2 linked regions of the Homo sapiens genome follow. The protein of the gene in region 1 purifies or fractionates together with the protein of each later gene. This does not show direct contact. Each region holds a gene or a part of one and is shown in the gene's direction. Other genes may lie near its edges.

Evidence for each region. The genes of interacting proteins can lie anywhere in the genome.
Region 2: the proteins of AQP7 (region 1) and KRT6B purify together in Homo sapiens (pull-down; one study listed by IntAct). This does not show direct contact.

Annotation. Positions count from the first base shown.
Region 1 is NC_000009.12:33,396,069-33,399,568, reverse strand, and holds part of AQP7 (aquaporin-7), read left to right. Parts: intron 1-3,500. UniProt on the Homo sapiens protein: Aquaglyceroporins form homotetrameric transmembrane channels, with each monomer independently mediating glycerol and water transport across the plasma membrane along their osmotic gradient. Could also be permeable to urea.
Region 2 is NC_000012.12:52,446,151-52,449,146, reverse strand, and holds the end of KRT6B (keratin, type II cytoskeletal 6B), read left to right. Parts: intron 1-179; coding exon 180-305; intron 306-1,148; coding exon 1,149-1,369; intron 1,370-1,573; coding exon 1,574-1,608; intron 1,609-1,721; coding exon 1,722-1,957; 3' UTR 1,958-2,496; downstream 2,497-2,996.

The DNA of each region.
Region 1 (3,500 bases):
AGTGCAGTGGCATGATCTCGGCTCACTGCAACTTCTGCTTCTTGGGTTCAAGCGATTCTCATGTCTCAGCCCCTCCCCCCCCAGCTGGTATTACAGGTGCCTGCCACCATGCCCAGCTAATTTTTTTTTTATTATTAGTGGAAATGGGGTTCTGCCATGTTGGCCAGGCTGGTCTTGAACTCCTGACCTCAAGTGATCCACCTGCCTCGGCCTCCTAAAGTGTTGGGATTACAGGCATGAGTCACCATGCCTGGCCAACCAATGTTTGTTGAATTAAGAAATGTTGGTTAGCAGGTTGAATTGTTGGCTCGTGGTTAGTTGGATAGTTTATGGTTGGCTGGTTGATTAGATAATTAAATGAGTTAATAGCTGGTTAACAGGAGAATCAGTTAGTTGGTTTTTGATAGGTTAGTCAAAGGGTTAGTAAGCCACCAGGCGTGGTGGCTCATGCCTGAAATCCCTGCACCTTGGGAGGCTGAGGCGGGAGGATTGCTTGAACCCTGGGAAGTCTAGGCTTCAGTGAGCTGTGACTGTGCCACCACCGCACTTCAGCCTGGGCGACAGAGTGAGACCCTGTCTCAAAAAAAAAAAAAAAGGAAAAAGAAAAAGAAAAGAAACAGGCTTTTAGTGAGCTGTTAGCTATTTAGTTCCTTGGTTAGCAGATTACTTAGGGAATCTGGTTGGCTGCCAGTTTCTTGCTTTGTAGGCTGGCTTTCTTGGGCCCCTCTTCTTAGTCTGTACCCTCTCCTTGAGCTCTCTCATCTATGCCCATGGCTCAGATGACCATCTGTGATTTGCTGTCCTCCAAATGTGTCTGTAAGTGAGACCACATGACCAGCTGCCTCCTCACTGGCCATCCCACCCAAGTGTCTAGCGGGCTCCTCACACTCAACATGCCCAGAAAGGGCCTCCTTGTCCATTCTCCCACAGCTTCTCTGCTGCGCCCCACACTAGTCAGGACCTGCCCTAGCCAGGACCTGAGGGCATCGCTGAGCTGCCCCGCTCTCTTCCCTCTCTAACCAAACACCAAGCCTGTCAGCTTGACTGTGCTCTTTTGGCCATTGGCGCTGCCATCTCTGTGGCTCAGGCTGCCGCCACTTCTCCACCCATCTGTGGAGAAGCTGATGCTCACCCTGCCTCCACTCCACTTCCTCCATCCTGGCCTCCACAGGGGAGGCAGCTCTCCTGCTGAAACCCTCCACTTGGCCCATGGCCCTCTGGTAGAGTTCAGACTCCCTAATGTGGGCCATGAGGCCTTCTGCCACCTGGCCCTGGCCCCTCTCTGCCCATCTCATGCCACCTCCACTCCTCCGTGGCCAGCCCATTCCTGCACATTGGATACTGCCTTAGCTGCAGGCCTTTGCACATGCCAGTCCTACGCCCAGAGTGATCCCTGCCTCCCTGGAGGCTCCTTTACCCTCCAGCCTTCTTTTCTTGACCTAAATTTCCCTTTCTCTGGGAGCCTCCTACCCCCTCCTCTAGGCCATTCACTTCCTCCACATGCCCCACGGTGCCCACTCTTTCAGCTGGGGCAGTGCTCATCACACTGCATAGTAATTGCTCAATTGATTGCTTTTCTTCCCACGGGCTGGATCGTACCAGTGTCCTTTACTGCAGTGTCTGAACATTCTAGGCACAGTAGATTCAAGAAATCTTGAGTTCATTGGCTGGTTGGTGGTTATCTGTTGCTTACTGTGTCTTGCCAGCTGTGTGGTGATGAGGAAGGAGCCAGGCTTCCAGGATTCTCTTGGTGTTCTTGGCTTTCTGCTCTATCCACTTCTCTCTCCTCTTCTGTGGTTACCTCCAGCATGGGAGCTGGGGTTGGATGGGGGCCAGTGGAGGGTCACCTCGCCCTGCTAGGGAGAGCAGCAGCATTCCTCAGGGCTCCTAAATTCCCCTGACCTCACAGCAGCAAAAAGTAAGCAGAGGGAATGAGAGATGTCCAGGCATGGAATAAAACATCTTCCACTTTTCAGCTGAGACCCTCTGTTCATAGCTCACCCATCCCAGTCTTTGCTCTATTCCTTACCCCAGAGAAACAAAACCAGGGAGGAGTAGATGGAGGGGGATGCAGAGTTGCGCGGATAATCCACTGGCCCCCATCCAACTCCAGCTCCCATGCAGCATCGTATAGGGGTCTCATTATCCCATGAGCAGCCTCCTCAGCCCTGAAGAAGAGACCCTACCAATGCAAGCAGCAGCCCAAAGACAGTCCTGGGAAGGTACCATAGAGGCAGGGGAGAGGTAGACAGAGCAGGGAGCCAAGAACACCAAGGAAATCCTGGAAGCCTGGCTCCTTTCTCATCAGCACACGGCAGGCAACAACCAGCCAATGAACCAAAGATTTATTGAATCTACTATGCCTACTATGTTCAGGCACTGCAGTGAAGGAAACTGGTATGATCCCAGCCCTTAGGAAGAAAAACCGTTAATTAATTATTAATCAAGCTTTTTTTTTTTTTTTTTTTGAGACAGGGTGTCACTCTGTCACCCATGCTGGAGTGCAGTGGTGTGATCTCAGCTCACTGCAACCTCTGCCTTCTGAGCTCAGGCAATCCTCCCACCTCAGCCTCCCCATTAGCTGGGACCACAGGCGTACACCACAACACCTGACTAATTTTTGTATTTTTTTTTTTGTAGAGATGAGGTTTTGTCATACTGCCCAGGCTGGTCTTGAACTCCTGGGCTCAAGCGATCAGCTCGCCTCGGCAAGTGCTGGGATTACAGGCGTGAGACACTGTGCCTGGCCTAACTGAGCAATTACTATGCAGTGTGATGAGCATTGCCCCAGCTGAAAGAGTGGGCACCGTGGGGCATGTGGAAGAAGTGAATGGCCTAGAGGAGAGGGTAGGAGGCTCTCCCAGAGAAAGGGAAATTTAGGTCAAGAAAAGAAGGCTGGTGGGTAAAGGAGCCTCTGGGGAGGCAGGGGACCATTCTGGGCGTAGGACTGGCATGTGCAAAGGCCTGCAGCTAAGGCAGTACGTGATGTGCAAGGATGGGCTGGCCAGAGGAGTTGAGGGGCTGGTGTCAGCTTCCGGGCATGCAGACAGTGAGATAGCAGAGTGACTAAGGCCACACTTAGAGGTATCTGTATCCCTCTTCTTCCTCTTTTTTTTTTTTTTTTTTTTTTGAGATGGAGTCTCGCTCTTGTTGCCCAGGCTGGAGTGCAGTGGCAAGATCTCGGCTCACCACAACCTCCATCTCCCATGTTCAAGCGATTCTCCTGCCTCAGCCTCCAAAGTAGCTGGGATTACAGGCATGCGCCATCATGCCTGGCTAATTTTGTATTTTTTAGTAGAGATGGGGTTTCTCTATCTTGGTCAGGCTGGTCTCGAACTCCCGACCTCAGGTGATCTGCCCACCTTGGCCTACCAAAGTGCTGGGATTATAGGCGTGAGCCACCGGGCCCAGCCCCTCTTCTTCCTCTTTATCCTCCAGGCCCACCCCGCCACCTTCCCCAAACTCCAGTCCTATACCTCTCTCTATATGCAGATTTGGGC
Region 2 (2,996 bases), on another chromosome or scaffold:
GGATGGTCTGTGACTCCAGTGTTTAGTATCCACCCACCACATAACATCAACTTTTCCTCAAGTTTCTTGGGGAGAAGCCATTAGGTCCACTTCATGACATTCATGATACACAAGTGAAAGTCATCGCTCCCAGGTAAGAACCCGTAGACACTGTCTCTCTCTCCACCTCTGGGCTGCAGTACGAGGAGCTGCAGATCACAGCAGGCAGACATGGGGACGACCTGCGCAACACCAAGCAGGAGATTGCTGAGATCAACCGCATGATCCAGAGGCTGAGATCTGAGATCGACCACGTCAAGAAGCAGGTATGGTGAGGGGCAATGGAGGAGAAAAGCATCATTTTTTTTATTAGGTCATGAGGCAGTAGTCACCCATCATTTAGTAAAATTCTTTGGGAATTGATTGATAAGCAGAGAAGGAAAGACATGCAGTTCCTAGGCTCAGTGAGAACACTCTGGCTCAGAGACATGGATCACACCCAAGGATATGAAACAATCACCTGGGCAGAAGCACTCTCAGCTGGTCAAAGCTGTAAAAGTATAGTCTAGAGGCATTGGAAGGGCTTATGTAAGAAGACTGATTGACTTTGGAATTGCAAAGGACCAAGTTGGGCAAGATGTCAGGTCAGAAAGCATCAGTAACATTGCTGCAAATCTGCTCAAGGTTCACGGTGAAAAAGCAAGTGAAACCAGGGCTATGAGGAAGGAAAACGTGGCCCAAGCAGGTGAGAGGATGTGAGGCAGGAGGAAGGCAAGGTCACAACAGCCTCATGTGAAAACTCATCACCTCAGTTGACAACGTTTGCAAATTATTGTGGCATCCATGTAAGGTCATCAAAAATGGTTTTGGTTTTTTTGCTTTGGAGCCAACACTTAATGTCCTTGGTCTTGTGTCCACTGTGGCATCTTCCATTGGTCATCACCCACATCTTTAGGCAGTGGAGTTAACAGAAAGGGCACAGGATTTTATCATGTGACTCCAGACGTAAAAACTTTGAAGACAGTAAAAAGGCTAGACAGGAAGAGTCAGAGCTCATTTACCATCAGTTCTGGGTTCCTGGTGCCTTCTTCACTGGAAAAGAACCAGCCAGGTTTATTCTTCTCTGGAAGACCAGATGACAAGTTCTTTCTCTTCCTTTGCCCTCCTAGTGTGCCAACCTACAGGCCGCCATTGCTGATGCTGAGCAGCGTGGGGAGATGGCCCTCAAGGATGCTAAGAACAAGCTGGAAGGGCTGGAGGATGCCCTGCAGAAGGCCAAGCAGGACCTGGCCCGGCTGCTGAAGGAGTACCAGGAGCTGATGAACGTCAAGCTGGCCCTGGATGTGGAGATCGCCACCTACCGCAAGCTGCTGGAGGGCGAGGAGTGCAGGTGGGTAACTGACGCGACTTCCTCCAACAGCTGAGTCCATCTTCAAGGTTCTGGCACTGAGCACAACTTTAAGGTGCACTGCCCAAGGCCATAATTGCTCTTCTTGGGAGAAAACTAAAAGTTTTCCCATGGACTTTCCCACCCACTGAGGCTTCCCATGCTCGTCCAGGGAAGGTCTCACCCTCCCTGTGTTCCTCTCCACAGGCTGAATGGCGAAGGCGTTGGACAAGTCAACATCTGTAAGTACCTTTGTTTGCCTTCCTCCCCTGCCCTTGCACTCTCCTGACTGGGCTCAGGCCGGCAGGATGAACTCATTGTGGCTTCTTGTGTCCTTGTCCCCTCCCCACCACAGCTGTAGTGCAGTCCACCGTCTCCAGTGGCTATGGCGGTGCCAGCGGTGTCGGCAGTGGCTTAGGCCTGGGTGGAGGAAGCAGCTACTCCTATGGCAGTGGTCTTGGCGTTGGAGGCGGCTTTAGTTCCAGCAGCGGCAGAGCCACTGGGGGTGGCCTCAGCTCTGTTGGAGGCGGCAGTTCCACCATCAAGTACACCACCACCTCCTCCTCCAGCAGGAAGAGCTACAAGCACTGAAGTGCTGCCGCCAGCTCTCAGTCCCACAGCTCTCAGGCCCCTCTCTGGCAGCAGAGCCCTCTCCTCAGGTTGCTTGTCCTCCCCTGGCCTCCAGTCTCCCCTGCCCTCCCGGGTAGAGCTGGGATGCCCTCACTTTTCTTCTCATCAATACCTGTTCCACTGAGCTCCTGTTGCTTACCATCAAGTCAACAGTTATCAGCACTCAGACATGCGAATGTCCTTTTTAGTTCCCGTATTATTACAGGTATCTGAGTCTGCCATAATTCTGAGAAGAAAATGACCTATATCCCCATAAGAACTGAAACTCAGTCTAGGTCCAGCTGCAGATGAGGAGTCCTCTCTTTAATTGCTAACCATCCTGCCCATTATAGCTACACTCAGGAGTTCTCATCTGACAAGTCAGTTGTCCTGATCTTCTCTTGCAGTGTCCCTGAATGGCAAGTGATGTACCTTCTGATGCAGTCTGCATTCCTGCACTGCTTTCTCTGCTCTCTTTGCCTTCTTTTGTTCTGTTGAATAAAGCATATTGAGAATGTGAACATGTTGTGTTAGATTGTATTGCTGACCACTTCCTGGTTTAGAAACATTCGCACCCCACAAATGGTTTCTTATCTTTGGGGAACTGCTGCTCTCCCCACTGACCAGTCATCATGGAGGATGAGTCGGGAGCTCCCCCTCCACAGCCTACTCCATCAGTCAACATTATGTGATTCTGTCGGACACTCCGGTGGACAATCACCAACTACTCAGCCCTCACCACTTGGGAATTTTTCCACAAATGGAGTCTTTTATAAAGCATCAGAACAAAAAGGGAAGCTAATTCCTGGAATCTGGATCAGCATAATCTGATAACTAAGATTCATTTATATTTTTTATTTTTCAGCCCCATCATTTGGTGGCTTGACCCCACACTGATCTCTGAGACTCCCTCTCTCCCCGGCTCCCCACCACCAGGGAAATATTGCACTGACCCTGCAGATCAGAAACACTTGGTAAGAAGCAGGTGCTTGCCCTGACTCTATGATTATTAAGACTTTTG